Regions from separate parts of the Homo sapiens genome. Here regions 2, 3, 4, 5, 6 and 7 are each linked to region 1. Evidence: fine-mapped expression QTL. A gene starts in region 1. Each other region holds a variant in brackets. All regions are shown on one strand. Distances are from middle to middle. Region 1 holds the start of PPA1 (inorganic pyrophosphatase 1). Region 2 overlaps LRRC20 (leucine rich repeat containing 20). Region 3 overlaps NPFFR1 (neuropeptide FF receptor 1). Region 4 holds the start of TYSND1 (trypsin like peroxisomal matrix peptidase 1). Region 5 has its middle 9.5 kb from the start of SAR1A. Region 6 overlaps LRRC20 (leucine rich repeat containing 20). Region 7 overlaps LRRC20 (leucine rich repeat containing 20).

What was found.
Region 2: its variant is fine-mapped to the expression of PPA1 in whole blood (INTERVAL, PIP above 0.99). The same link has a PIP of 0.9 or more in monocytes.
Region 3: its variant is fine-mapped to the expression of PPA1 in adrenal gland (GTEx, PIP above 0.99). The same link has a PIP of 0.9 or more in ovary.
Region 4: its variant is fine-mapped to the expression of PPA1 in lung (TOPMed, PIP above 0.99).
Region 5: its variant is fine-mapped to the expression of PPA1 in lung (TOPMed, PIP above 0.99). The same link has a PIP of 0.9 or more in tibial artery.
Region 6: its variant is fine-mapped to the expression of PPA1 in whole blood (TOPMed, PIP above 0.99).
Region 7: its variant is fine-mapped to the expression of PPA1 in blood mononuclear cells (TOPMed, PIP above 0.99). The same link has a PIP of 0.9 or more in monocytes and whole blood.

Annotation. Positions count from the first base shown.
Region 1 is chr10:70,231,200-70,235,400 of GRCh38, reverse strand. PPA1 (inorganic pyrophosphatase 1) reads left to right here and starts at 1,972. Exons shown (of 11, transcript NM_021129.4): 1 at 1,972-2,137. The coding sequence starts at 2,074. RefSeq lists a silencer at 1,761-2,330.
Region 2 is chr10:70,368,820-70,373,020 of GRCh38, reverse strand. The region is part of intron 2 of LRRC20 (leucine rich repeat containing 20); the gene reads left to right. Among named protein-coding and RNA genes, the nearest start is that of LRRC20, 12 kb to the left of the region's middle. RefSeq lists an enhancer at 3,620-4,121. The variant TGTTGC/C (reference allele first, on the strand shown) is at 2,185.
Region 3 is chr10:70,255,506-70,259,706 of GRCh38, reverse strand. NPFFR1 (neuropeptide FF receptor 1) reads left to right here. Exons shown (of 4, transcript NM_022146.5): 4 at 3,880-4,201. Among named protein-coding and RNA genes, the nearest start is that of PPA1, 24 kb to the right of the region's middle. The variant C/A (reference allele first, on the strand shown) is at 1,749.
Region 4 is chr10:70,144,254-70,148,253 of GRCh38, reverse strand. TYSND1 (trypsin like peroxisomal matrix peptidase 1) reads left to right here and starts at 1,554. Exons shown (of 4, transcript NM_173555.4): 1 at 1,554-2,833. The coding sequence starts at 1,668. It overlaps SAR1A (secretion associated Ras related GTPase 1A), which reads left to right. Exons shown (of 7, transcript NM_020150.5): 7 at 1-965. RefSeq lists silencers at 1,783-2,092, 2,423-2,652 and an enhancer at 2,243-2,292. The variant T/C (reference allele first, on the strand shown) is at 2,005.
Region 5 is chr10:70,177,867-70,182,067 of GRCh38, reverse strand. No RefSeq gene overlaps it. Among named protein-coding and RNA genes, the nearest start is that of SAR1A, 9.5 kb to the right of the region's middle. The variant G/A (reference allele first, on the strand shown) is at 1,742.
Region 6 is chr10:70,300,233-70,304,433 of GRCh38, reverse strand. It overlaps LRRC20 (leucine rich repeat containing 20), which reads left to right. Exons shown (of 5, transcript NM_001278212.2): 5 at 2,926-4,201. The coding sequence ends at 3,080. Among named protein-coding and RNA genes, the nearest start is that of NPFFR1, 18 kb to the right of the region's middle. The variant C/A (reference allele first, on the strand shown) is at 1,969.
Region 7 is chr10:70,353,317-70,357,517 of GRCh38, reverse strand. The region is part of intron 2 of LRRC20 (leucine rich repeat containing 20); the gene reads left to right. Among named protein-coding and RNA genes, the nearest start is that of LRRC20, 27 kb to the left of the region's middle. RefSeq lists enhancers at 1,643-1,852, 2,073-2,172. The variant G/A (reference allele first, on the strand shown) is at 1,969.

The sequences.
Region 1 (4,201 bases):
CAAAGGAAAGTTACAATTCACCAGGGCTGGGTGTTTTACCAGACCTGATAATGACTGGCTCTCTGAATACATTCGATGAAACAAGAGCCAGTGTGCAAGTCTGGAGGTCAGTGAGACTTTATTATCTTGCTCTGAGCTGGCAGGAGGCAAAGGGAAAGTGTATGTAGAACATTATTATTGCATCACTGCTGTCTTCTTAAGTCAGTCACAGATGAGAGTCTGGGTTTTTCCAAGAAAATTGGTTCCATCTGCTCAAAGGCAGAAAAGTGATAGAGCAGTTCAATCAAAAGAGCATCCCCTTAAAATATTCTTTGAACTTGATCCTACTTTTTTTTCTGAAACAGAGTCTCGCTCTGTCACCCAGGCTGGAATGCACTGGCGTGATCTCAACTCACCGCAACCTCCGCCTCTCGGGATCAAGTGTTCTCCTGCCTCAGTCTCCCGAGTAGCTGGGATTACAGGCGCGTGCAACCACGCCCAGCTAATTTTTGTATTTTTACTAGGGACAGGGTTTCACTGTGTTGGCCAGGCTGGTTTCCAACTCCTGACGTCGGGTAATCCGCCCACCTCGGCCTCCCAAAGTGCTGGGATTGAAGGCGTAAGTCACCGCGCCTGGCCTTGACCCTAATTATTGACTAAACTATTGCTTCGCTAATTTTTTTTCCTGCCCTTCTGTTTTAACAGCAGTAAAACAGTGTGGTGAAATGTTCAAAAAATCAGTGAATCACAGCCTTCTGAAAATTAATGGGTGTCAGTGAGGTTTGGGAGTTGGATGGAGACAAAGGGAGCGACACCATAACTAACTGGAGATCTTACTAGGTTTTCATTTAATATTCATTTTTTACAATAGACATTGTTTGGAAAAAAGGGTTTAATTCAAAATGTCATTAAGGCACATTATCTTTAATGTTCTAGAAAAAGTTATTTAAAGAAATCCTGGCCATGAAATTAAAATAAATAAATAAATAAAACCAGGCATTCTTTGAAATGTGAATAATAATTTGCTAATTTATATTTAGGATTGTGGATATACTTTTTTTCTTTTACATGTATTCCTGGGGAGGTAAGTGATGCAAATATTTTCCCACTGCCTCAATCAGACTTTAGTTTTTGGGGTCTGGCCTGATATGATGGAATATAAACAGGAAATCAAGATCAGAAGAGCCTGTCCCTGAGAACACTCCTTCACGGGACTCTAGCTCACGCCTGGACCTTCCCAGTGCTTCCATCTGAAGCCCCTGGAGACCCAGGTGGGTTAAGTAGGGTGGCAGGGGGGATGGAGGGGGCGGGGGGCGCGGGGGCGTAAATCCTCCCCCACTGGGGAGGGTGACAGTAACAACTTCCAGATTGTTTACAAAGATACAGGCTCTGCTTCAGGCATTTGACGTGTATTAACTCGGGTAATCATCCCAGTAACTCATGAAATAGTTATATTATTATCTTCACTTCCCAGATAAGCAACGGAGTGAGAGAGATTATAGAAAGTGGAGAAGCGAGTACCTTACTAGTAGCCACTAGGGGTGTCAGTAATATGGCTCAACTTTGTTACGACGGATCAGAAAAATGCTCACCTTTAAGACCGCAAGCAGAGCCTGTCTGGGGAAGCAGGTGACTTATCAACGCCTTTTGAGATAAGGAATAGGACTGCGGGGAGGAGTGTGTGAGAATCAAAGGTGAGTTCCCTGTGTGCGTGGTCGGCGGTCAACTCCTAGCTAGTCCAAGCTTAGAGCCTGCGCATTTGCCCTCCCGGGTCAGAGCCCAAAGCCGAAGGAACAGAACCAGCGCCGGCGGCAGCCACGTGGCCCAGCCTCTGAGCCCTAGCTGCCATCGCGGAGGCTGGGCCCGAGGGGCGGGGCTGGGGAGTGCGGACACCCGGGCCTGGCGGAGTGCGCCTGCGCACGGGGTTGGCCCGGCGGGGGTGGGAACACTAGCAGAGCCGCGTTAAAGGCGCTCCCCGCCCCGCCCGCCGGTCCAGTGCTCGCAGTGCGCAGGCGTGGGGCTCTCTCCTTGTCAGTCGGCGCCGCGTGCGGGCTGGTGGCTCTGTGGCAGCGGCGGCGGCAGGACTCCGGCACTATGAGCGGCTTCAGCACCGAGGAGCGCGCCGCGCCCTTCTCCCTGGAGTACCGAGTCTTCCTCAGTGAGTGTCTGCGGCCCGTGGCCCCTCCGCGCCCGTCCGCCCATTCATTCCCGGGCCTTGCCTCCCCGGGAGGGTGCGGCCCGCGCTCGGCCCCAGGTCTCCGACGCGGGCCCGTCTCCTCGGGCGCGTTGTGGGGCCTGGCCGGCCTCACATTGCATACTTGCCGCCGCCGGTCGGGGCGGCGAGGGTCGCCTCCGGCCATCCCTCCCCGCTGAACGGAGATGGTCCCTTTGTCACGCCTCGGGGTACCCGAACCTGGGCCCAGCTAGTTTTGCAGGTGTCTGGCTCTGACAGGGTCTGTTGGGAAAAGGAAATCACCGACCCACCCTAGAAAGGTGCTTGGAAGTAACATAATTCCCGTAAGAGGATTGCTCAGTTTGGAGAAAAGGCGACTCCGGGCCGGGGGGGGCAGTGACTTCCTAAAGACCTTAATTCCGCCGCCGTAGCTCAGATTATCGGCGCTGAGCGGAGCCAAGTCCACCCCCTCGTTTTACAGACGGGAAAACTGAGGCCCGGATCGGGAGCCGTCTGTGAAGGCGCTGGACCGGTCCTCCGCGGCCCGGTCGTGCTCCTGCCTCTGCGCCGCCTGTTTTCCCTCAGCGCCGATGCTGGGAATGCTCCTTATGAAACAGAAAGCTGTTTCCCTCAAATCAAACAGATGACGTCAGTCTGGAAACAAGACTGAGAAAGTGCCAAGTTTTTACCTTTGCAGGATTCGGCGTCTAGGGGGTACCTACCCCGGGTCCTGCACCTAGGGCTGCACGGGGAAACCGGGAGGCTGCATGCTGGCGCCCTCCACGCTCCTTAGGGCACCACGTTTTTTTGGCCTTGTAGGTGGAGGAAAGCTACTTGGGGTTTTTCTTTATCCTCTTACTCCCCCCACCCCCAGCTACTAGGAGTAGATTATGGGCGATAACGGAGGCGTTCGTAAATGTGTCACCACAGGCGCTTCTATTGTAACCTCTTTACAGTTTTATTTGGAAGGAAATGGGCAGGTGCCTCGAACTCTGAGTTGGTGTATGAAGGAAGGGGAAGCGGGGAGTAGAGGAGACGAATGAATAGGCATTGAAGGAACAAAAAGTAGCCTGGTGCGGGAGGAAAAGGAAAGCGAACTGTAAAGCTTACACATCTAGCCAAAGGTTAACTATCAGGTAAAATCCAGGAAGGGTGAGAACTACCCCCCACTCTCCATTTTATTTAATTTTGCAATTAAGCAGCAAGGACAGTCCAGTAACTTTTGACTAATAATTCATGGGACTGTTTTTCTGGAAATAGTGTTGGCTCCAGAATTTCTCTGTAGGAAAGGCTTACAGAGGTGACTGTCTGGTTTGAAGGTGAGGGGTGGATCTTCAAGCTATATATGCAGAACAAACACACTGCTTTTACTTAGGTTATTTATTTGCAATTAATATTTGGTGGCCGTTATGGGAGACCAAAGCTACTCCTAGAATTTGGCACTAGCTGAAGTAACTGTTTTTATCAAGTGGAACTCTCTGGAACTTAAGAAATACTAATAATTAGAACCCACTACATAGTTATCCAATTTTAAGTGCTTTATCCTTCCTTAATAGAAATAAACTTTTTTAAGCTTTATAATATTACATTTGTCAATTTCTTTAAAACTGATAAAGGGCTGGACAGACTGCAAAGTCACAATTGGCCCTAAAGGGACTTTTATGTTTTATTGTTTGTTTTTTGAAACAAAGTCTCGCTCTGTTGCCCAGGCTGGAGTGCAGTGGCATGATCTTGGCTCATTGCAACTTCAGCCTCCCGGGTTCAAGTGATTCTCCTGCCTCAGCCTCCCAAGTAGCTGGGATTACAGGCACTTGCCACCATGCCTGACTAATTTTTGTATTTTTAGTAGAGACGGGGTTTCACCATGTTGGCCAGGCTGGTCTTGAACTCCTTACCTCCAGTGATCCACCTGCTTTGGCCTTCCAAAGTGCTGGGATTACAGGCGTGAGCCACCGTGCCTGGCCTCCACTTTGATTTTTAAACTTGAAGGGATGCGATGTGGACAGTAGGTTTCCTAAAGAATACTGAAGAAGTTTTAAAATTACTTTT
Region 2 (4,201 bases), 140 kb before region 1:
TCCTTCAGCCTCCCAAGTAGCTGGGATTACAGGTGTGTGCCACCATGCCTGGCTTATTTTTCTATTTTTTTTTTTTTTTTAGTAGAGATGGGGTTTTGCCATGTTGGCCAAGCTGGTCTCGAACACCTGGCCTCAAGCGATCTACCTGCCTCAGCCTCCTAAAGTGCTGGGATTATAGGCATGAGCCACCACACCCGGCCTATATAATGCTATTTATGTAGCATCAACAATGGAGCGTAATATTTCATTGTATGATTAAATAAAGACTGGCACATTCTCGGCCGGGCGCAGTGGCTCACACCTTTAATCCCAGCACTTTGGGTGGCCGAGGCGGGCGGATCACAAGGTCAGGAGATCGAAACCATCCTGGCTAACATGGTGAAACCCCATCTCTACTAAAAATACAAAAAAATTAGCCGGGCGTGGTGGCGGGCACCTGTAGTCCCAGCTACTCGGGAGGCTGAGGCAGGAGAATGGTGTGAACCTGGGAGGTGGAGCCTGCAGTGAGCTGAGATTGCGCCACTGGACTCCAGCCTGGGTGACAGAGTGAGACTCCATCTCAAAAAAAAAAAAAACGAAAAGAAGGATTGGCACATTCTCATATATAACGTGAACTGGAAAACATCAAGAATGCCAAACTGTATGTAGGGTAAGGTACGAATTATGTTAAACCTGTGCATATATGTAGGAAAGAAAATGGAAGGAAATAACCAATATGGAAATGGGAGTTAGAAAATACTATTTTGCATTTTCTAAATGTTCTATAATGAACGTATTACTCTTAAAATTAGGGAACAGATTTTAGGGAAAGGACCACCTGCCACTGTGGAAATAAAACACACATCTTGACAACAGATGAGAGTTCAGGGGTAGCTCATTCTCAAAGCCGAGGCCCCTGGGAGGAGACATAGGCTTCCCTGGCTTTTCCCGTCCTGCTGGGTTCCCTCCCGGGGTGGTGCTCCAGAGCCACAGGTGCTGCTGCAGAGTGGGAGATCCCCTGTAGAGACTGGGCTGGAAGAGCTCAGTTACAGGCTTGCTCTCACCTTACTCAGCCAAGTAACCCTGGTAAGCACTTCACATGCTCCCCCAGTGCTCCTGGGGCACCCCTGGCTAGAGCTGGAGCCAGGCCTGCTTCCTCCTGTAACTCGAGGCGAGGATCCCAGCCTTTCTCACTCCACTCCAGGCTTCTCCATCCCCAGAGACGTGGGCTCCTTTCCATTTGGCCCCTGGGAGGCCCTCAGCTTGAGTTGAAGCTGCTTTCCTCCCAGTCTCTCACCCCTCCTCAGCATCATCTTCTCGATGTTTCTAAGGAGCATGCAGAGTTGCAAACTGCCCCTTAGGTAGTCTGCTTCCCCTGAGCCAGGCTCTCTTTCCCTGCCCCTTTTCCATCTGGGTTTCCGTGGGTCCTGGACCGCTGAGGGGCCTTAGTCTGACCCCACCCTTCCCTCCAGCCTGTGGTTGTGGGGCCAGGCTTCCCTGCACCCCGCTCCTCTCCGGGTCTTAGGCTCCTGGCTCTGCAGTGTGCATGGGGACTGGCTTTTAAAGAATAATCGTGACACAGAGGAGCAGGATTTGAAAAGGCCTGAGGCCCGAGACTCTACTACACACATCCCTGGGAGCCCCCAGGCACCTAGTACACAGCAGGTACTCAATACATGTTAACTGCTTATATTTTTGGTAGAGACCCTGTCTCTACCAAAAATAAAATTTAAAAAATTAGCCAGGTGCAGTGGCACACACCTGTAGTGTCAGCTACTTTGGGAGGTTGAGGCGAGAGGATTGCATGAGTCCTGGAGGTTGAGGCTGCGGTGAGCCATGATCGGGCCACTGCACTCCAGCCTGGGCGAGAAAAAGTTCTATTTAAAAAATCTGATATAATATACTCTAGTTTCTCTTCAGATCCAATAAATCTTTTGCTTCTTACTGAAAAAAAAAATCTGATTTAAGGGAATAATCTTATTTCTTTCTTATGCTCTATTTTTTATTTCTTTAATCATTTTAGAAACAAGGTCTTGCTCTGTCACCCAGGCTGGAGTGCAGTGGCGCAATCATAGTTCCCTGCAGCCTTGAATTCCTGGGCTCAAGTGATCCTCCCACCTCAGCCTTCCAAGTAGTTGAGACTACAGGCACTTGCTACTACACCGACTAATTTTTAAAATATTTTGTAGAGATGGGGTCTCACTG[TGTTGC/C]CTAGGCTGTTCTCAAACTCCTGGCCTCAAGCTATCCTCTTGTCTCAGCCTATACTTGTTTTAAATCTTTACTGCTTTTTCTTTTTTTTGAAATGGAGTCCCACTCTGTTGCCTAGGCTGGAGTGCAGTGGTGTGATCTCGGCTCACTGTAACCTCCACCTCCTGGGTTCGAGCAATTCTCCTGCCTCAGCCTCCCAAGTAGCTGGGGTTACAGGTGTGTGCCGCCACACCTGGTTAATTTTTAATTTTTGTACTTTTAGTATAGACAGGGTTTCATCATGTTAGCCAGGCTAGTCTTGAACTCCCAGCCTCAGCCTCCCGAAGTGCTAGGATTACAGGCTTGAGCCACCATGCCTGGCCTGCTTTTTCTGTAACAGGACATTCTTGAGGGTTTCAGTCTGTTGTTCCTGCTGACTCTTGCTCACAGTAGGTTATTCTGGGTGGACTTTATATAATATAATAATTTGGACCCTGTGCTCCTGTCTGGTGAACTATCATCTGTGTAATCCTGGGTCGCAGGGCTGTGTCCTCTGGAGGGGTCGTGATTGCTTTGGTCAGGTGCCTGAGTGTGACCAGCCTAGAAGCACGTCTTCTGTTAATGTCTCAGCCCTGAGGGCTTCTGTATATGAATTAAGGGCTGTGAATATTCAAATCCTAAGTATTAACAGGTCTGTGATTTCAGAATCTTAGTGGAGATTTTTGTTTTTTAACAATTCAGTGCCCAGGCAAAGACTAAACTGCTTGTTGTCTTATCAGGTAGTAGATTTTTATTATTTTATTATTTTTTATTATCAAGTAGTAGATTTGGCTCATTAGAGCCTCCACTTCTCAGGTTCAAGTGATTCTCCTGCCTCAGCTATCCCCAAAAATTAGCTGGGCACCTGCCACCATGCCCAGCTAACTTTTGTATATTTAGCAGAGATGGGGTTTCGCCATGTTGCCCAGGCTGGTCTCGAACTCCTGACCTCAAGTGATCCACCTGTTTCGGTCTCCCAAAGTGCTGGGATTCAGATTCTCTATTTTTGATCTTTTGGACTTGCCCTTATTAAATGCCAGGCATCGTGGTAAACAGTTTGCTGGTTTTAACTCATTTAATTCCCCATGACAACCCTATGACAAAGGTGATGTTAATACTCCCATTTTACAGATGAGGAAAGAAAGGTGTGAGAAACATCTTTTATCCAGTGTGTATGTATGGTTTTTTTTTTTTTTTTTTTTTTTTTTTTGAGACAGCGTCTTACTCTGTCACCCAGGCGCTGGAGTGCAGTGACACCATCTCGGCTCACGGCAATCTCTGCCTCCCAGGTTCAAGTATTTTATCTGATGTTTTTAAGTGTTTTGTTGTACAAGGGTATTCAACTTCCCTCCTCTCCTGCTTTGCTTTTGCAGTAGTTTTCCTCTGTTTTATAGCTGCTGGAGCTAGGCTGAGTGTAGGTGACCTGCTGGTGACACAGCTGTTTGGAGTGGGAGCAGAGTTCATAGGTCAGCCTAGGGCACAGCCCTGCTTTTCCCCATCCACCCTGCTGCCTGCCCCGAGGGATGGGGGTGGGGATGAGGAGGAGGGCTGAGAGAACTAAGCGAGGCCAATGATGTGAACCTCCCTCTTCCCGCCTTCTCCCACCCACACACCTGCCTCTCCTCCCAGGTCTTCTTGGAACCACAGTGAGCCCACCCTGTTCCTTGAAAAGGAGGAAAAAAAGCAGAGGTGAACATCTACCTTTGTATTTAAGATTTACATCATTGTTAGGCTGTCTTGAGTTAAAGAAACAATGGGGACAGCCCCCATGGACTGCTTTCATGGGCAAATGTCCCTCTGTCAGTTCCTTCACTCCTGCAGGATTTTCTGAAGGGTAGGTCCTGGGTAACCAACATCAGGATTGTAGGAGTACTGGTTAAAAATGCAGATTCAGGCCGGGCACGGTAGCTCACACCTGTAATCCTAGAACTTTGGGACGCTGAGGCGGGCAGATTGCCTGAGGCCAGGAGTTCGAGACCAGCCTGGGCAACACGGT
Region 3 (4,201 bases), 24 kb before region 1:
GTTCTCTCCCCAGCACAGGCATATCTTAACCCTGCCCTTTGTGGAATCTAGTGTTCACATCCTCTCTCCACCTCAAGCCCAGTTTTTTGTAACTCAGTGAAGTAGGCAGCTGGAGTAATGAAGTGGGTTCTACTCTCCACAAGGCCACTAACTAGCTGGGTGATCAGGAGAAGTCCCTTCCCTTCATCGACCTTTGTTTTGTTATCATTGTTGAAGGAAATGAGAGTGTACAACTTCTCCCAGTGGTGTTTGCAGTATTCTTCAAGTCCCACCTCATCCAGGAAGCCTGCCCAGATTACCCCAAGATTCTCCTCCACCCATTTACTGCTATTGCATTCATAGCCAGCACTACAGGCTTTAAGAATTATTTATTCTCTGGAGATTTCTTTTTCTTTCTTTCTTTCTTTTTTTTTTTTGAGGGGGGAGACAGAGTCTTGCTCTGTCACCCAGGCTGGAGTGCCATGGCGATCTTGGCTGACTGCAACCTCTGCCTCCCGGGTTCAAGCCATTCTCGTGCCTCAGTCCCCGGAGTAGCTGGGATTGCAGGTGCGCACCACCATGCATGGCTAATTTTTGTCTTTTTAGTAGAGAAGGGTTTCACCATGTTGGCCAGGCTGGTCTCGAACTCCTGTCCTCAAGTGATCCACCCTCCTCAGCCTCCCAAAGTGCTGACATAAGCCACTATTCTCTGGAGCTTTCTTGAGTATGTGAAGTATGAAGCCAGTAGGTCAAAGTCATATAGGTTGAGATAACAAGGCCTGAGTCAGGCTGTGGGAGAGGTAAAAGGTCAGGCTATCAGGCCAAAAACTGGGTTGGCAGGAGGGCAGGACACAGTGTAGCGAAGTGGAAAGGACACTTGACTGAGAGTCAGCTCTAGACCTATGTTCCAGGGCAGGCTCTGACTCCAAACAGCCATGTGACCATAAGACCCCCACTGGGCAAGCTTTCCCCTCCATTAAACAAGTAAGATTGACTGGACATTCTTCAGGTTTCTATTTTCTGGCATCAGTAGATGACAGAAGCCATTCTGGGGAATAGGAGCCCCTCCTTTTTCCTCACTATTAAGCATTTGAAATGTCTCAAGAAGTGTGGTCAGTGTCATCTCACTTAATCTTCACAACTACCCAACAGAGTAGGTCATACTATGGGCTTCATTTTACAGATGAGGAAACTAAGGCTCAGAAAGTATTTTGAGTAACTTCCCCTCTGGTCATTCATGCATTTATCTAATCACAACCTAGGAATACTGAGATGAAAAGTCAAGGCATCTGCCCTCACAGAGCTTGCAGTTGAGCAATCGTCTTTGAACCATGCTGCAGGGGGAGGTTTTTACCTCCCCCTACAGCAGCTGTTTTCAACTCTGGTTGCACAGTAGACTTCTCCAGGAGCTTTTTTTTTTTTTGGAGACAAGGTCTTGCTCTATTGCCTTGGCTGGAGTGCAGTGGTCTGATCATGGCTCACTGCAGTCTCAGCCTCAACCTCCTGTGAAGGGGTGGCCTGCCTCTCCACACCTGTGGGTATTTCAAGTCGGGTGGGATGAGAGACTGAGAAAGAGAAATAAGACGCAGAGACAAAGTATAGAGAAACAACAGTGGGCCCAGGTGACCGGTGCTCTGCATACCAAGGACCTGCGCCGGCACCGGTCTCTGAGTTCCCTCAGTTTTTATTTATTATTATTTTCATTATTTCAGCAGAAAGGAATGTAGTAGGAGGGCAGGGTGATAATAAGGAGAAGGTCAGTAACAAAC[C/A]TGTGAGCAATAGAATCTATGTCATAATTAAGTTCAAGGGAAGGTACTGTGACTGGACGTGCACGTAAGCCAGATTTATGTTTCTCTCCACCCAAACATCTCAGTGGAGTAAAGAATAACAAGGCAGCACTGCTGCAAACATGTCTCACCTCCCACCATAGGGTGGTTTTTCTCTCATCTCAGAACTGAACAAATGTACAATAGGGTTTTATACTGAGACATTCAGTTCCCAGGGGCAGGCAGGAGACAGTGGCCTTCCTCTATCTCAACTGCAAGAGGCTTTCCTCTTTTACTAATCCACCTCAGCACAGACCCTTTACAGGTGTTGGGCTGGGGGACGGTCAGGTCTTTCTCATCCCATGAGGCCATATTTCAGACTATCATATGGGGAGAAACTTTGGACAATACCCTGCTTTCAAGGGCAGAGGTCCCCGCGGCTTTCCGCAGTGCATTGTGCCCCTAGTTTATTGACACTAGAGAATGGCGATGACTTTTACCAAGTATACTGTTTGTAAACATTTTGTTAACAAGGCATGTCCTGCACAGCCCTAGATCCCTTAAACCTTGATTTCATACAACACATGTTTTTGTGAGCTCCAGGTTGGGTCAAAATGGCTGGGGCAAAGTGGCTGGGGCAAAGCTACAAATTAACAACATCTCAGCAAAGCAATTGTTTAAAGTACAAGTCTTTTTCAAAATGGAGTCTCTTATGTCTTCCCTTTCTACACAGACACAATAACAGTCTGATTTCTCTTTCTTTTCCCTACACTCCTGGACTCAAGTGATTATCCTGCCTCAGCCTCCTGTGTAGCTGGAAGAATAGGCAAGCATCCCCTCATCTGGTTAATTTTTTTGGTAGAGATGGGGTTTCACCATGTTTCCCAGGCTGGTCTCCAACTCCTGGGTTCAAGTGATCCTCCTGCCTTGGCCTCCCAAAGTGCTGGGATTATAAGCATGAACCATGGCACCTGACCCCAGGAGCTTTAAAAACAAAAACAGCACATAACAAATAATGCTAAAACCACTTTCTAGACTAATTAGGTTGGAATCCTTGGCCTGAAAAAATAGGCACGGGTTTTGTCTTTGTTGTTGAAATGCTTCAGGAGAGTCTCATGCACATGGAGGGTTTACAGCTACTGGTTTATATGGCATATGAAGCAAGACAAATCTGGGTTCAAGACTGGTCCTTGCAACTTGCTATGTGAACTTGAGCCAACTGCTTAACACTCGAGTCCCAGTTTCCTTGTCTGTAAATCAACAGTGTAGTAACTATCTTAAAGGCCTCACCTTTAAAAAATAATAAAGGGTGTAATAACAGATGCTGAGTTGTCCTCATGAGGAAATAAATGGTGCAGACTTGTCCTTGCATTGTAGAGATACTGATACTATGGCCAAGATGACATAGGGACAGCCTGACATGTAGGCTCTACATCTGACCTCCTGAGGTTTTCTGGAGAATCCATAAACAGAAACTGTGTTATTTGACGCACCTAATCGTCCTTGTCGAGGACAGACTGCGCACTCTGATCGCTCTGCTAGCTGCCAGCTAATCAGTTGACCCCCAAAAGTACACAAATGGCCCCGCAAGGAGGCTCATATCTATAATCCCAGAAATTCGGGAGGCCGAGGCCGGAGGATAGCTTGAGCCCAAGACTTTGAGACTAGCCTGGGCAACACAGTGAGACCTCATCTCTCCAAAAATTGAAAGAAATTAGCCGGCGAGGTGGCAGCGCATTCCTGTGGTTCCAGCTACTCAGGAGGCTGAGGTGGGAGGAGAGGATCACTTGAGCCCGGGAGGTGGAGACTGCAGGGAGCCGTAATCGCGCCACTGCACTCCAGACTGGGCGACAGAAGGAGGCCCTGTCTCAGGAAAAAAAAAAAAAAAAGGAGAAAAGTGCAAAAGTGCACACAGGATTCATTGTTCCCACACGATCTGCGGTTTCCTCCTCCCTTCTCATAAATCCTGTAGCTGCCTTTGTTCTTTGACTACTCAGCCAATTCAGGTCTGAGCTGTTCTTCGACGCCGCCCTAGATGCGATGATGAAGGTCAGGTGCCCGCATCCCACCCACCGTCCCCTCGCAGGGGCCCTAGGACCCACCCAGATCCCGCCTGTCTCTCTCCCCGCGGCAGGTTCCGCTGCATCGTGCACCCTTTCCGCGAGAAGCTGACCCTGCGGAAGGCGCTCGTCACCATCGCCGTCATCTGGGCCCTGGCGCTGCTCATCATGTGTCCCTCGGCCGTCACGCTGACCGTCACCCGTGAGGAGCACCACTTCATGGTGGACGCCCGCAACCGCTCCTACCCGCTCTACTCCTGCTGGGAGGCCTGGCCCGAGAAGGGCATGCGCAGGGTCTACACCACTGTGCTCTTCTCGCACATCTACCTGGCGCCGCTGGCGCTCATCGTGGTCATGTACGCCCGCATCGCGCGCAAGCTCTGCCAGGCCCCGGGC
Region 4 (4,000 bases), 87 kb after region 1:
AGGCAGAAAGATTAGAGAATTTAAGTAGCAATTGTATATGGTAAGCAATACAGTAACCTTAATAAAAATTAATGATGGCCGGGTACGGTGGCTCACGCCTGTAATCCCAGCACTTTGGGAGGCCGAGGCGGGCGGATCACAAGGTCAGGAGATCGAGACCATCCTGGCTAACACGGTGAAACCCCGTCTCTACTAAAAATACAAAAAATTAGCTGGGCGTGGTGGCAGGCGCCTGTAGTCCCAGCGACTGGGGAGGCTGAGGCAGGAGAATAGCGTGAACCCAGGAGGCGGAGTTTGCAGTGAGCGGAGATCGCACCATTGCACTCCAGCCTGGGCGACAGAGCGAGACTCCGTCTCAAAAAAATAAATAAATAAATAAAAAATAATGTGTATTTTATCAATTCAGTGATAAAGCAGACCTTTGTAAACTGTCTAGCTTGTGGTGACTGATTGAGGGTATCATGAAGCTCCGCGCCCCCCCACTCCCCGACATACTCGTTCATCCTCCTCTGTCCTAAAGCGTACTTCTTTGGAAAAGTAGAGCAGTTTATGTTAGTGTACACTAGAGATGGTAAACTATGCCTTGTGGGTCAAATCGGGCCTGCTGCCTGTGTTTGTATGGCCTGTGAGCAAAGAAAGGTTTTTACATATTTAAATGGTTGGAAAAAATATTTAAAGAATGCTATTTTTGGACACAAAAAATTGTATGAAATTAAAATTTCAATGTCTGTATCTTTTTATTGGGACACAGCCACCGCCATTCCTTTAGCTTTTGTATGCAACAGCTGCAGAGTTGACTATTTGAGACAAGTTGTATGGTCCCCCCAAACTGGAACTGTTTCCATTCTGGCCTTCTACAGAAAGTATTTGGACCCTGGCCTAGATAAATCCTGGCTGGTGGTTATGTTATGTGAAATGTGCACACTGTAAAATATAGGCCTGTATGATTAAAATTTTTGATTTCAGCTACTGTTCATAGTCGATTTAAAGGGCAATTTAATTTACAGCAAATCCAGTTTCTCGGAGATTTGTGTTGGGGCTTTGGCAGCAAAAAAAAATCCTAGGAGTAATCTTGAGAGTTCCATGCCCCCTAGTGGATTGCTATAGGGTTTACTTTTAAATTTTCAAAACACTGAATTGGCCAAGGATTTCCTTGGTCCATATTATCCCAAGGGTCAGAGGCTGAAGGTCGCCTAGACCTGGGCAGATGCTCACAGGTACTGTCGTGGCCTGGGCAAATCTAGGCACGTCAGCGCTCATTTCTATTCCCTTTCCCACATTCCAGCAAACGAGACTAGGCTTGAAGGGACCCACCCTCCTCTCCTCTGATTCCTCGTGACGCCGCACTCCTCTTACTCTCCCCGGGGCTCATCCGGGGGAATGGGGCAGATTATGTCCCACCGGTTGGACAAACTAACGAGGGCGGGGAAAGGAAAAAAAAAATCAGAATAGGAAGCCAATCAGAGCTCGGTACAAGCCCAGCCAATCGGGTCGGGTCAATTGGGGCTTAGCCAATCGGGCTCGATGAGGAAGACGTGAGTCAGAGCTTGCGCCTCTCGCTTCCAGCTGTGGGTGGCGCTAGGCAGCTTCAGCCGGACCGGGTAGGGGTCCTCGCTCGCTAGCTTGCTGTTTCTCGGAGAAGCTCCCGAGTGTCCGGCCTAGAGGCCATGAGAAGGCAGTGGGGGTCTGCCATGAGGGCGGCCGAGCAGGCGGGCTGCATGGTGAGCGCCTCCCGGGCCGGACAGCCCGAGGCGGGCCCGTGGAGCTGCAGCGGGGTAATCCTGAGCCGTAGCCCGGGCCTGGTGCTTTGCCACGGGGGCATCTTCGTCCCCTTCCTGCGAGCTGGCAGCGAAGTCCTGACCGCGGCCGGCGCCGTCTTCCTGCCTGGCGACAGTTGCAGGGACGACCTGCGCCTGCACGTGCAGTGGGCCCCAACGGCCGCGGGTCCCGGGGGCGGCGCGGAGCGGGGCCGCCCAGGGCTGTGCACGCCCCAGTGCGCGAGCC[T/C]CGAGCCCGGCCCACCTGCCCCGTCCCGCGGGCGTCCCCTGCAGCCCCGGCTTCCTGCTGAGCTGCTGCTGCTGCTGAGCTGCCCGGCCTTCTGGGCCCACTTCGCGCGCCTCTTCGGGGACGAGGCAGCGGAACAGTGGCGCTTCTCGAGCGCGGCGCGGGATGACGAAGTGTCGGAGGACGAGGAGGCGGATCAACTGAGAGCGCTGGGCTGGTTTGCGCTGCTGGGCGTGCGGCTAGGCCAGGAGGAGGTGGAGGAGGAGCGCGGGCCAGCCATGGCGGTGTCGCCTCTCGGGGCCGTGCCCAAGGGTGCGCCATTGCTGGTCTGCGGCTCCCCTTTCGGCGCCTTCTGCCCCGACATCTTTCTCAACACGCTGAGCTGCGGGGTGCTCAGCAACGTGGCCGGCCCACTGCTGCTTACCGACGCACGCTGCCTGCCCGGCACCGAGGGCGGCGGCGTGTTCACCGCGCGGCCCGCGGGGGCGCTGGTGGCGCTGGTGGTGGCGCCGCTCTGTTGGAAGGCCGGCGAATGGGTGGGCTTCACGCTGCTCTGCGCCGCCGCCCCCCTTTTCCGCGCCGCCCGCGACGCGCTTCACCGCCTGCCGCACAGCACCGCTGCCCTGGCCGCCCTTCTGCCGCCAGAGGTGGGCGTCCCGTGGGGTCTGCCCCTCCGAGACTCCGGGCCCCTGTGGGCAGCCGCGGCAGTGTTGGTGGAGTGCGGCACCGTATGGGGCTCCGGAGTGGCTGTGGCACCCCGCCTTGTAGTGACCTGTCGGCACGTGTCCCCTCGGGAAGCAGCCAGGGTCCTGGTGCGCTCCACCACCCCCAAGTAAGCCCGCAGGGCTGACGCCACTTCATCCCTTTCCAGGTCTCAGATCTGGGTCCAGCCCTAATACTCTTGAGTATTGTGCAGGCCTTTCTTGTGTCACGCGGATGCTTTGGGCGTGTAGTGGGTAGAGACCTGGAACCCTCCCCTCATCCTTTATACCCAGAACCCCTGTGGGGAGAATCTGGGGCAAGGTGTCAAGCTCGAAGCAGCTCTGGATTTGGGTACTGTGGGACACCCTGAATCCGGAACAGGGCATCTTTGAGCTCCCCTCAAAGGCTGAGTTTCTTCTGGGCAGCTTCACTGTCTGATAGCCCTGCACGCCATACCCCTCGGTTCTCTGGCCCTTTGAACAGAGATTCCCTAACCCTGCTGCTTCTCCTCTGAAAGTGATAAGGTCCCAGAGGCCCAGGATGGTGCTCTCCTGGGGTAAGGAGATGGGTATGTTAATTTTATCCATCTTTTAGTGCTTAGCCAGAGCTTCCCGTCTGAGTGAAACGTGAGTTTCTACGTAATCAGAAGGTAGGGGGGTGGCCCACGCAGCTGTACATGGTTCAGCCCAGCCTTGCAGCCCAGGCTTTTCCAAATCTCTTCCTGAATCCCCAAGCTTAGCCAGGTGTGGGTAACACTGCCCAGTTTTGCCATAGGTGTCCCCACTGTGGCCTATAGGACAGCCATGACTTTATAGGGAAGACTGATGATGAAGGTTTGCCTATGGTGTGTGGCCCCCACCAGATTCCTTCCACTCCCCCCACATGCCCCTTGCTCCTAAGGAGACTGCCAGGTCTGTTGGAAGCTACCCCTGCAGAGTGTGTAGTAGGACGCCCCTGTCTGATCCCGGGCAAGTCACTTAACCTGTCTAAGCTGCCTCCCCGGGAGTTGACGCTGAATGTCGTGGAACGGAGCCTGTCACGTCGTGTGCTACAGAAGTGTTAGCGTGTACGTAAATAGGGACCCAGAGGAGTGAAACCATGTCATATCTGACCCACCAACTGACGGGATTGTTGTGGGTATCAACGAGGCAGTGAAGGAAAGTGTTGTGTTTGCCTTGGCTCCTCCCACTTTGTTTGGTGTTGGGAATGTTACTGAGCGTCTCTGGGCCTCAGTTATACCACCTAAAATGGAGATAATGCCAGTGCCTAGTTTATAGGGTCGTGAAGACTAAATAAA
Region 5 (4,201 bases), 53 kb after region 1:
ATTATAGGCATGTGCCACCACATCTGGCTAATTTTGTATTTTTTTAGTAGAGATGGGGTTTCTCCATGTTAGTCAGGCTGGTCTCGAACTCCTGACCTCAGGTGATCCACCCGCCTTGGTCTCCCAAAGTGCTGGAATTACAGGCGTGAGCCACTGCACCTGACCCAGATTTCCTTAGTTTTTTACCTAATGTCTTTTAATGTGTTGAGATACCATACTCTATTTATTTATTTGAGATGGAGTCTTGCTGTGTCACCCAGGCTGTAGTGCAATGGCACAATCTTTGGCTCACTGCAACCTCCGCCTCCTGGGTTCAAGTGATTATTTTGCCTCAGCCTCCCAAGTAGCTGGGATTATAGGTGTATGCCACCACACCTGGCTAATTTTGTATTTTTAGTAGAGATGGAGTTTCACCATGTTGGTCAGGTTGGTCTCGAACTCCTGACCTCAGGTGATCTGCCCGCCTCAGCCTCCCAAACTGCTGGGATTACAGGCATGAGCTACTGTGCCAGGCTGAGATACCATACTATATTTAGTTGTCCTATCTCCTATTTTCTTCTTAGTGGTTACTATTTCTTAGACTTTCCTTTTTTTTTTTTTTGAGACAGAGTTTCACTCTTGTTGCCCAGGCTAGAGTGTGCAATGGCACAATTTTGGCTCACTGCAACCTCCGCTCCTGGGTTCAAGCGATTCTCCTGCCTCAGCCTCCCAAGTAGCTGGGATTACAGTCATGTGCCACCATGCCTGGCTAATTTTTTGTATTTAGTAGAGAGGGGGTTTCACTATGTTGGCCGGGCTGGTCTTGAAATCCTGACCTCAGGCGATCCACCCGCCTTGGTCTCCCAAAGTGCTGGGATTACAGGCGTGAGCCAGCGCACCTGGCCGCTTTCCTCATTTTTGATGACTCTATCTTTGAGGAGTATGGTCAGGTATTTTATAGAACATCTCTCAGTTGAGATTTGTCTGATATTTTTCTCATGATTAGACTGGGGATATGTGTTGGGAGGAGGAAGATCATACGAATAAAGTGATATTCTCATCATATCATATGAAGGGCATGTACTATCAACATGGCATATCACTGGAGGTGTTAAACTTCATCACCTGGCTGAGATTGTGATTGTCATGTTTCTCTGCTGTAATTATATTCTCCCCCTCATCCCCTTTCCACACTGTTCTCTTTAGAAGGATGTCACTGTGTGTAGCCCAGACATGATGGGGAGTTACACTCCACCTCCTTGAGGGTAGACTATTTACCTTAATTATTTGGAATTCTTCTCCATGGAAGATATGTCTGTTCTTCTTCATTTATCTATTTATTGTTTCTTTGTTTTTGAGACAGGGTCTTGCTTTGTCACCTAGGCTGGAGTGCAGTGCCCTGATTATAGCTAACTGCAGCCTGGACCTCTTGGGCTCAAGCAATCCTCTCAACTCAGCCTCCAGACTAGCTAGGACTACAGGTTCACACCATCATGCCTGGCTAATTTTTTAAGTTTTTTGTAGTCATGGGATCTTGCTGTGTTGCCCAGGCTTTCTCAAACTCCTGGCCTCAAGCAGTCCTCCTACCTTGGACTCCCAAAATGCTGGGATTACACATGTGAGCCAGCATGCCCAGCTATCTATTCAGTCAATTATTTATTTATGTCCATATGGACTCATGGATATCTATCTTATACTTTAGGTTCTAATCCAAAGCTATTTTAAAATTTATTTTGTTGCTTAAATTATGCCAGCTTTGGCC[G/A]CTGGGAGCTCTTTCAGTTGCTTGTCTCATTGATCCCCTCATTCTGGGTGTTTTTTGGATATGGGGATACTTCTATACTTTTTGGCACAAGGTGTTCCAGGCTCATCTTGTATATTCCCTGCCCCAGCCCTAGAATCAGTCATTTTCCCAAGAAGCCCTGGTTCCTTTCCTTGGAGAATGGTATTAGAAACCAAGATCTGGGCACTAGGGTGCTCACTGCTACTGAGTTGTTGTTGTTTCTATGCCTTCTCAGCTGACATAGCAAGGAAATATATATGTGTATATTGACATATATATAAACATATCTATAAATACATTTCTGTCTATATCACACTAAGCATGAATTCATACTGATATCTCCAACTCCAATCCATTACTACATGGATCATTGTAGCCTCTTCTCTCCTCGCTTATCTATAACCTCACACTCCAACAGTGAGTTTTCACCTGCTCCCATCATCCACCATCCATTTGCTTAATTGGTAAATTCCAGTATACATAGGGGTTTCCAAATTTTATAATGGTTTCCAAATTGTTGGCCTTTACAAACCCTGTGGGAAACAACCTGATCAACTGGAATATAGTGTTTATGTGTATTCCTTTTGCCTTTAGTCTTACAGACTTCAGTCATTTCCAAAGTGACTTAGTTCAGCACCTTTTCTGCCTACCTGCTTCAGTAAGGTTGTTCATACATTTATAATATAGTTTTTTTTTCTCAGATTCTGCATCTTTTCTAGGATCCCCTGATCTCTAAAGGATTTTTTAAAATTTGCATATGTTAAAGTTCAATCTTTGTCCTATAATGGACTATGGCTTTTGACAAATGCATCGTGTCATGTATTCACTATTGTTTTATTTATGTATTTATTTAGACAGAGTCCTGCTCTGTCATCAGGCTGGAGTGCAGTGACGCAATCTTGGCTCACCGCAACCTCTGCCTCCTGGGTTCAAGCGATTCTCCTGCCTCAGACTCCCAAGTAGCTGGGACTATAGGCGTGTGCCACCATGCCCAGCTGATTTTTGTATTTTAGTAGAGATGCGGTTTCACCATGTTGGCCAGGACGGTCTCTATCTTTTGACCTCAGGATCCACCTGCCTCGGCCTCCCAAAGTGCTGGGATTACAGGCATGAGCCACCGTGCCCAGCCTGTTTATTTTTTAAATTACACAAATACTAGTATGTTAAAAAATTTCAGCCAGGTATAGTGGCTCATGCTTGTAATCCCAGCAGTTATGGAGGCCGAGATGGGAGGATCCCCTGAGCCCAGGAGTTCGAGACCATCCTGTGCAATATAGTGAGAACTCACCTCTACAAAAGATTAAAATACATTTTTAAAAATTTCAAAAATACAGATAAAAAAATTCTATCTTGATTGCTGTTAATCCCACTCCCTTCTTATAAACACTGTTATCAGTTTGATAAAAATCTCTCTAGATTTTTCTCTATGTCTTTATACACATATTTGAACATATGTAAAAGTATAATTTTGTGTGTGTGTTTTTTGAAGAGGCATAAGATTATACTTTGTATACATTTTGAAATCTCATGTTATTACTTTGTCAGTATACCTAATTCTTTTAAACTGGTATAAAGATAATAGGGATGTACTGTTGAACACGAATGCTTAATCCACTCCATGTGATATGTTCCAGAACCCTAGTGTATTCTAGAAAGCTGGGACATTGGGTACAAGTTGGAGAACAGAAGAAGGGCAGGCAAGAAAAGAAGCAGGAGCCTCATGCTTAACAAAGGCTCTGTGCTCCCCTGCTAAGGAGATCCTGGACTTTAAAGAGGCCCTGAAGAGGCATCAAGAGTTTTTAAAATTAGAAAGGAATATGGTTTTATTTCTGTAATGGGTACGGAAGAATTTTAAGGAATGTTAGTTATGTGGAATGCTGTTTGATAACATATCCACTTTTTACCCTTAAACTCTTCTTATCAGAAAATATTCAAGTGTATTTCTTGAGTGTATGACTGCTCTATAAATACTGGAGTAGCCATGGTATGACACGCCATTTGGACACCTTCATCTTCTCAGCTATTTATTGGGTGGCACCATAGGAGCAGTAAAGGAGACTACAAAGCAGTGTAGTTATTTATTTATTTATTTATGTATTTATTTTGAGATGGGGTCTGGCTCTGTCGCCCAGGCTGGAGTTCAGTGGAGTGATCCCAGCTCACTGCAACCTCCACCTCCCGGGCTCAAGCCATCCTCCTACCTTAGCTTCCCGAGTAGCTGGTACTGCAAGGTGCACACCACCACACCCAGCTAATTTTTGTGTTTTTTGTAAAGATTGGGTTTTGTCATGTCGCCCAGGCTAGTCTTGAACTTCTGAGCTCAAGTGAGCTGCCTGCCTCAACCTCCCAAAGTGCTGGGATTACAGACGTGAGCCACTGCACCTGGCCCAGTGTGGTGATTCTTAAAGCAGGGTCCAAAAGCCTCTGAGGGGTAAGAAAGTC
Region 6 (4,201 bases), 69 kb before region 1:
TGCCTAAAGTAAAATATGTGTATAATATCCATTAGTGTGTTCTAAAATTAAACACAAAACAACCACAAAAACAAAAAGCCCCCAACCGTGGGCAATATTTTGTGCCTAGGAGAGGACAGGAGCTGGCTCTTGCCATCACTATCGGCCTGAGGTTGTGTCGGACTGCATGGGATGAGGTCTGGCCCCGTCCTGTGCTAGGGTGGGAGGTTTTCTGGGATCCGGCTGCTCACGGAATTGGATCGGGGAAGAGCGGATGCAGCCAGAGCCTCAGCTTGCACAGGGCACGCGTCGAGGGCAAGCGTCCTAGTGTTGTCTGAGTGATCCTAAAGGTTAGGTGGGAGGAACTATAACAGGTTACCAAGTGTTAGTATAGCTGCTGCCTTATTCTGGTCCTTTAAAAAAAAAACTGAGGCGAAATTCACATAACATAAAATTAACCACTTAAATTAACCACATAAAGTGTATAATTCATTGGCATTGAGGACATTCACAGTGTTGTGCAATCATCACCTCTATCTAATTCCAAAATACTTCTGTCACCCCAAAGGAGTCCCCATATCCTTTAAGCAGTTGCTCCCCAATTTAATTCTGTTTGAGGAAATATTAGTTATGTCCATTTTCAAGATTAGGAAAACAAGGTACGGGAAGTAATACAAATTTTTAGGTGGTAAAGCTGGGGCATCAGCTTAGGGCTGTCTTAAATTTCATGTCTATGACACTAGGCTGTGCTGCGTCTTCAGTTATAACTGAGAATATTGGACCTGGAATTAATTATAGATCACTACTATCTTTATATTTATTACACTGTGGCATTTTTGATGAGTGTTGGAAAATGCCCTAGTATCTTATGTAAGTTAGGTGGATGACAGCTTGAAACTTGATTTCCAAATTCTACACGTTAAATTTTGGAAACTAGAGCTGGGACAGGAGATATGTTTGTTTTGATTCCAGAGGACATTCCATCTCTAAGTGATGATCCAGCATAGTGATGATCCAATATAGTCTGGAACTTCCCAGATAGCTCTTATGGAGCAGTGATATAGGTAGGGCACATTATCAGGAGTCCTGATAAATTCAAACTGTAACTAACCTCCCTTAGATAGACCCAAGATAGTCATGTCTGCTTCTTTAGGGACTCTTTAGGGGTATGATGGAGCAGATGGCATGATAGAGTGGCATTCCCATAGTTAAGAAGAATTTCCATAGGCCACTGTATGCGACTTCCTCTCTCTTGGCAAAAATATTCTTTATGCACATAATAGTCTTTGTTTTTTAATAGTTTTATTGACACATACTATACAATTCACCCATTTAATATATGCAATTCGGTGGTTTTGGCATATTACATTATTTTTTAATTGTGATAAAATATATATAACAAAATGTGCCATTTTAACCTTTTTTTTTTCTTTTAAGAAATAGAGGGCCGGGCGCAGTGGCTCACGCCTGTAATCCCAGCACTTTGGGAGGCCGAGACGGGCGGATCACGAGGTCAGGAGATCGAGACCATCCTGGCTAACACGGTGAAACCCCGTCTCTACTAAAAATACAAAAAATTAGCTGGGCATGGTGGCGCGCGCCTGTAGTCCCAGCTACACGGGAGGCTGAGGCAGGAGAATGGCGTGAACCTGGGAGGCGGAGCTTGCAGTGAGTCGAGATCGCGCCACTGCACTCCAGCCTGGGCGACAGAGCGAAACTCCGTCTCAAAAAAAAAAAAAAAGAAATAGAGACTGGGGTCTCACTATGTTGCCCATCCTGACTTTGAACTCCTGGGCTCAAGAGATTCTCCTGCCTCAGCCTCCTGACTAGCTGAGACTATAGCCTGGCTGATTTTAACCATTTTTAAGCATACTGTAGCTCAGTGGCATTAATTACTTTCACCATGTTGCGCAACCATCACCGCTATCTATTTCCAAAATATTTTCATCACTCCAACAGAAACTGTAGCTATTAAGCAATAAATCCCTA[C/A]TTCCCCTTCTCCTAGCCCCTGGGAACCTCTGTTCTACTTTCTGTTTCTATGAATTCAACTACTCTATGTACCTCACATAAGTGGAGTCATACGGTATTTGTCTTTTTGTGCCTGCCTTCTTTCTTTAGCACAATATTTTCTCTTTTTTTTTTGAGACAGAGCTTTGCTTTGTCGCCCAGGCTGGAGTGCAGTGGTGCGATTTCCCCTCACTGCAACCTCCGCCTCGTGGGTTCAAGCAATTCTCTGCCACAGCCTCCCAAGTAGCTGGGATTACAAGCACCCACCACCATGCCCGGCTAATGTTTTTGTATTTTTAGTAGAGATGGGGTTTCACCAGCTTGGCCAGGCAGGTCTTGAAATCCTGACCTCGTGATCCACCCGCCTCACCCTCCCAAAGTGCTGGGATTACAGGCGTGAGCCACCACGACTGGCCTAGCACAATGTTTTCAAGGTTCATTCATGTTGTAACCTGTATCGGAATTGCGTTCCTTTAAAAGGCTACATAGTATTCCATATATCATATATATATGGACATATATATGGACAACATAGTATATATCATATTGTTTATCCATTCATCTATTGGTGGACATTTGACTATTATAAATAGTGCTGCTATGAACATTTGTGTAAAATTATTTGTTTGAATGCCTGTTTTTAATTCTTTCAGTTCTACCTAGGAGTAAAATTGCTGGGTTGTATGGCAATCCTACGTTTAACTTTTTGAAGCAGTTGATTCTTATTTTTAAGGATGCTTTCCTCCATGTGGTTGTTATATCCTGGTGGGCCCGATGGCCCTTTGCACAGGGCTGGGCACCAGGAGCTGAGCCCACGTGCAGTGGGCAATGGAGAGCTGCCCCTCACCATCAGGTGCTCAGAGTCCTCATGGCCCATTGTCCTTCTTTTCTGTCTGGTTGGCCTCCACCACTCTAACCTGTCCATTCTGTCCCCAATAGATGTGCCCGTGGAGAAGCTGGCCGCCATGCCAGCCTTGCGCAGCATCAACCTCCGCTTCAACCCACTCAACGCCGAGGTGCGCGTGATCGCCCCGCCGCTCATCAAGTTTGACATGCTCATGTCTCCGGAAGGCGCAAGAGCCCCCCTACCTTAGGCCACCCTCCTCATGCCCACCCAGCAAGGGGCAGAGGCCACAGGCCTGGAACCCTGGAAGGGAGGGAGGCCCATGGGAGGCCAAGCCTGGGGGCTGGGGGCGGGTGGGCCGAGCAGCACGTGGTGGGTGGGGTGCAGCTGGTCTGGATAGATAGCTTACAGCAGTAGTGGGCTCTGGAATGCCCAAGGGAAGAGGCAAGGTGGGGCCTGCAGCCTGGACTCGGCACTCACAGCTGCTGTGCAAACTCAGGCAGATCTCCTGCCCTCTCTGAGCCTTGTCACTTGAAAAAAACAGGACCCTTTCCCTCCTTTGGGCTCCCTGGAGGTTTTTAAGCAGTACGTGCCTCCAAGTTACCTCCAGATCAGCAGGCACAGGTGGGCATTGCCAGGTATTTTCTGAGCCCCTGCGGGTTTGAGGCCTTGTTTTTAGTGCTGAGAGCCAGTTGCTGCCCTGAGAAGAGAAGACAACCTCCATCTATTTATTGCTTCCTGAGAACTGACCTGGATGCGGCCCTCTGCAGGGCCCAGTCTTCAGTCCTGTGGTCCCTGGACTGGTGGGAACCTGAACTAGGAGTCCTGGGAGAGCTGTGGTGGGAATATGGGCTGGCACTGCTGCAGGGCAAGAACATTCATGTAGGAGCCCGAGGACCAGCAGGCTGGGAATGGGGAGCAAGTCACGTCAGCTCTGTCATTCCCCACAGTTAACAAATTGGCGGGGTGGGAAGTCCTGAGTGCTCCGTCCCTCTAGCATCACTCCTGAGCTGCGGGAGAGGTGGCCCAGAGAACAGCAGAGTCAGTTACACCTGCAGCTCTTGTCTAAAGTGATTAGATGGCCACCCTCACCACTGTCCAGTCCAGCAGCAGCCTGGCTGCCTTGTCATGGCCTCCTGGGGGCAGAAGGCGATGTGGACCACGGGATTTGTAGCCAGCCAGCTCCCAGGCCAACGCCCAAAGCCCTGATGACCTGGTTCTTCTGAGGCCCTCAACCTGGCATCTTAGGGTATGGTCAGGCAACAGGGTGACCAGCTGTCCTGGTTTCCCAGGACATGGAACTTTCAATGCTAAAACTGGGACAGTACCCAGCAAGTGGGGATGGTTGGTCCCCTACCAGGAGAGGGCCTG
Region 7 (4,201 bases), 120 kb before region 1:
AAAGTAATACTTTTGCATCCTCATAGCAGCATCTCTTACTTACTGAGCACAAACTACCTGCCAGGCACTGTGCTAAGAGCCTTGCAGACGTTTTATTTCATGCTCAGAACCACCTGTTCGTTGGATCCTGTTGTCCTCATTTCTTTTTGAGGTATATTCAAATACTGTAACGTTTACATTTTAAAATATACAATGCAGTATTTATTTGTATATTCACAAGATTGTATAACCATCACTGCTGTCTAATTCTAAGCCATTTTCATCACCCAAAAAAGAAACCCTGTACCATGCGGAGTCCTTTCCCATTTCCTGATCTCCGCCCAGCCCCAGGCCATTACCAGTCTACTTTCTGTCTCTATAGATTGCCTCTTCTGGACATTTTATGTAAATGGAATCATGCAACATTTGTCCTTTTGTGACTGGCTTCCTTCACATAGCAAAATGTTTTCAAGGTTCATTCATGTTGCAGCCCATGTCAGGATTTCATTCCTTTTTATGGCTGAATAATATTCCATTGAATGGATATATGACATGTCCTTTATCTGTTCATCAGCTGATGGACATTTGGATTGTCTCCACTTTTCAACTATTGTGAAAATGCTGCTGTGAACATTTATATACAGGTGTTTTTTTTTGTTTTGCTTTGTTTTTTGTTTTGTTTTGTTTTGAGGTGGAGTCTCATTCTGTTGCCCAGGCTGGAGTGCAGTGGCGCGATCTTGGCTCACTGCAACCTCCGCCTCCTGGGTTCAAGCAATTCTTCTGCCTCAGCCTCCTGAGTAGCTGTGACTACAGGCACCTGCCACCACACCCTGCTAATTTTTGTATTTTTAGTAGAGACGGGGTTTCACCATATTGGCCAGGCTGGTCTCAAACTCCTAACCTCGTGATCTGCCCGCCTCGGCCTCCCAAAGTGCTGGGATTACAGGTGTGAGCTACTCTGCCCAGCACTACATACAGGTTTTAAAACTTTATTTATTTGTTTTTATTTTTTTGAGACAAAGTCTCAAAAGGTCTGGCTCTGTTGCCCAGGCTGGGGTGCAGTGGCATGATCTTGGCTCACTGCAACCTCTGCCTCCCAAGCTCAAGCGATCCTCCCACCACAGCCTCCCAAGTAGCTAGCTGGGACTACAGGCATGCACTACCACACCCAGCTACTTTTTGTATTTTTTATAGAACCAGGGTTTTACTGTGTTGCCCAGGATGGTCTTGAACTCTTGAACTTAAGTGATCCTCCCACCTTGGCCTCCCAAAGTGCTTGGGTTACGGGCGTGAGCCACCATGCCCAGATTGCATACAGGTTTTTGAAAGAGCTCTTGTCCTCACTTTACTGAAGAAGAAACTGAGATTGGAGTTAAGTAACTTGCCTGAGGTCCCACAGCAAGAAAGAGTTGGCCCAAGAAAGGATTCAATTTGGATTCTGAGAAGAAGATATTGCTTTCTAGGTCTCTTGTGTGGTTAGAAGTTATTCTGACTGAGTATGATAGCCACTGGCTGGAGGGCCTCATGCTCAGCTTTCTTCTCTGAGGCCAACTCTCTGTAGCACATTATTTCCTAGAGAGGCAGGGGCTTCTGCAGCAGGACGTGAGAAGGCACCTCTGAGATGCAGGATTCGTGTGTGCGTTTGTCAGAGGGGTGTCCACACAGCCCTCTGAGCGTGCGGCTGCTCTCCCCAGCAGCTCCCGTGAGCTTTGCCCTGGCAGGACTTTAGCTCTGTTCCCTATGTCCCCATCAACACCCATCTCCACTGATCCAGGTTTTTGGGCGTTTGAGGAAAAACATACCCCAAGGGTCACTGCATGTTGGGGATGTTCCTTTCTTTAAACTGGAGATATTTGTAAGAAGTCATTAAGTGCTTGTAAAACTCTTGCACAATATACAAGTCCATGAAATAGGAAGTGAAAGAAAAAAATCCCCCTAAACCCACTGGCACTTTCAAGTTGAGTGGTTTCCCCACGTCTCAGAAGACGC[G/A]CCTTCCCGAAGTGCCTTTCTGCCCTTCTCTTCCCGACAACCCTCCCGGGCCCAGTAGCTGTGTGTGCTATTGCGGTGGGACTTTCTGGACGTATGTGGTCCTCGGTGAGCTCTTCCTCCCATGCCCTTTTCTCTATAAGGGGCATGAGACAGGAAACAGGCTCAGAAACATTGCTCTAGAGATCGGGAGTAAAACACCCCCAAAGACCTGAAAGTGGTTGTCCCTGGGGGAGGGGATTTGTCAAGAGGGAGCAAGTCCGGCTGCTTTTTGTCTTAAGCCTTTTAGAGCCAGCCAGCTCTGTAAGCACTACAACAAACAGCTTTGTTAAAGTGATGCCTAATTGTGCCCAGTGATGCACGGCACGATCCCTTGATGAGCAGTTGTTTTGCTCGCTGTCTGCATCCTGTGTGTCCCTACTTTGGAAATTGAGTGACATTTCAGAGACTGGCAGCTCAAGTCATGGGGGGCTCCTGTTTGACAGAGGGCTGTCTGAAGAGCCTTTGTTTAGTAGAATCATGGAGTCAGAGGATGTCTGGTCTGGTTGAGACCCCAAATCATCTAGTCCAAACCCTCATTTTACAGATGAGGGGACAAGGCCCATGAAGAAGTAGTGTCTCTGAGCTCCCCCTGGCTGATAGTGGAGGGGCTGGGATAAGAATTAGGCCTCCTGAGTTACAGCCCAGGGCGGCCTCCACACCGAGGGTCACGTGTGCCTCTGAGTACCAGAAGCATGAACAAAGCGAGAGAAGAGAGTGAAGAGACTCTGTCTCTGCTGCTCTGTCCTGAAATAGTCTGCTCAGAGGGGAAGCAGGAGGAACCCAGGGCACAAAAAATTTCCATGAGCGTGTAAACCTCATGCCCTTAGGCAGGCAGGAGCAGCCAGCACTCAGTTACTGTCATTACCACCCCATTATCATCATCAATACAGGAAGCAGCTACATCAGGAGGAGGCCTGGCCCCTCTAGGCCAGTGATGCTTCAGCTAAAACACAGATGCCTGGGCCTTACCCCCAGAGTTTCTGATTCTGTGGGACTGGGGTGGTGCCTGAGAATGTGCCTTTCTGACAAGTTCTGGGGTGATGCTAATGCTGTGGGTGATGCTGATGCCCTTGGAGAACCACTGCACTGGAGTAGCCCTTGCTACTTAGTGTGGTCCTTGGACCTGCTGGGTGGAAATGCAGACTCTTACGCCCCACCTAGACATGTGGCATCAGAATCTGCACGTTGGCAGTGTCCCCAGGTGTCACACTTTAGTTTGAGAGGTGATGGTATGGTGCAGAGTTCACCTGGCTGCACGTTAGAGTCACCCAGGGAGCTTTTACCCTCCCTTCCATTCCCAAGCCCCAGCCCCCACTAATTAAATCAGACTCTCTGGGAGAGAGACTTAGGCATCAAGAGTCTATAGAGCTCCCAAGGTGGCTCCTGGTTGTGGCCAAGTCCTAGAATCCACAGTGGCAGCTGCAAGGGGCCTTGGAGATGATCAGTTGCAATTTACCAAGATTTGAAAACTAAGGGCATAAGGACCCAAGGTCCCACAGACAGTAAGTGACAAATCCAGGCTGTTGATACCCTGATGACTCTTTCACCAGCTCTTTCAACTCTAAGTCCCCTTTTATATAGTTCCATGGGAACTGCAATATACTAGTGTTCCCAGGGAACCCATTGTAAATCATGGAAGATCTATCTGCTCATTGGAAACCCACCACCTCCCAATCTGTTTCAGCATGGCAGGCTGTCCTGAATGCGGGTTACATATTCTAGGGAGGCAGTGTAGCATGGTGGTTAGGAGCAAACCCTTAAGCTCAGCAGCTTACTAACCAAGACTCCTGGCTCTGTGTCTTGATTCCTCCTCTGTACAACAGGAATAGTAATAATAGTGCCCATCTCATGGATCATCTGAGGTCAGGAGTTCGAGACCAGCCTGGCCAACATGGTGAAACCCCTTCTCTACTAAAAATACAAAAATTAGTTGGGCGTGGTGGTGCATGCCTGTAGTCCCAGCTACTCAGGAGGCTGAGGCAGGAGACTCACTTGAACCCAGGAGGCGGAGGTTGCAGTGAGCCGAGATTACACCACTGCACTCCAGCCTGGGTGACAGAGTGAGACTCTGTCTCAAAAAAATAAAAAATACAAAATAGTGCCTGTCTCATGGGGATGTTGTGATGTTGTGGGGGTTAACTGAGTTAATGCATGACAAGCTGAGATCACTAATTGCAAGCAGCAGGCACTTTGT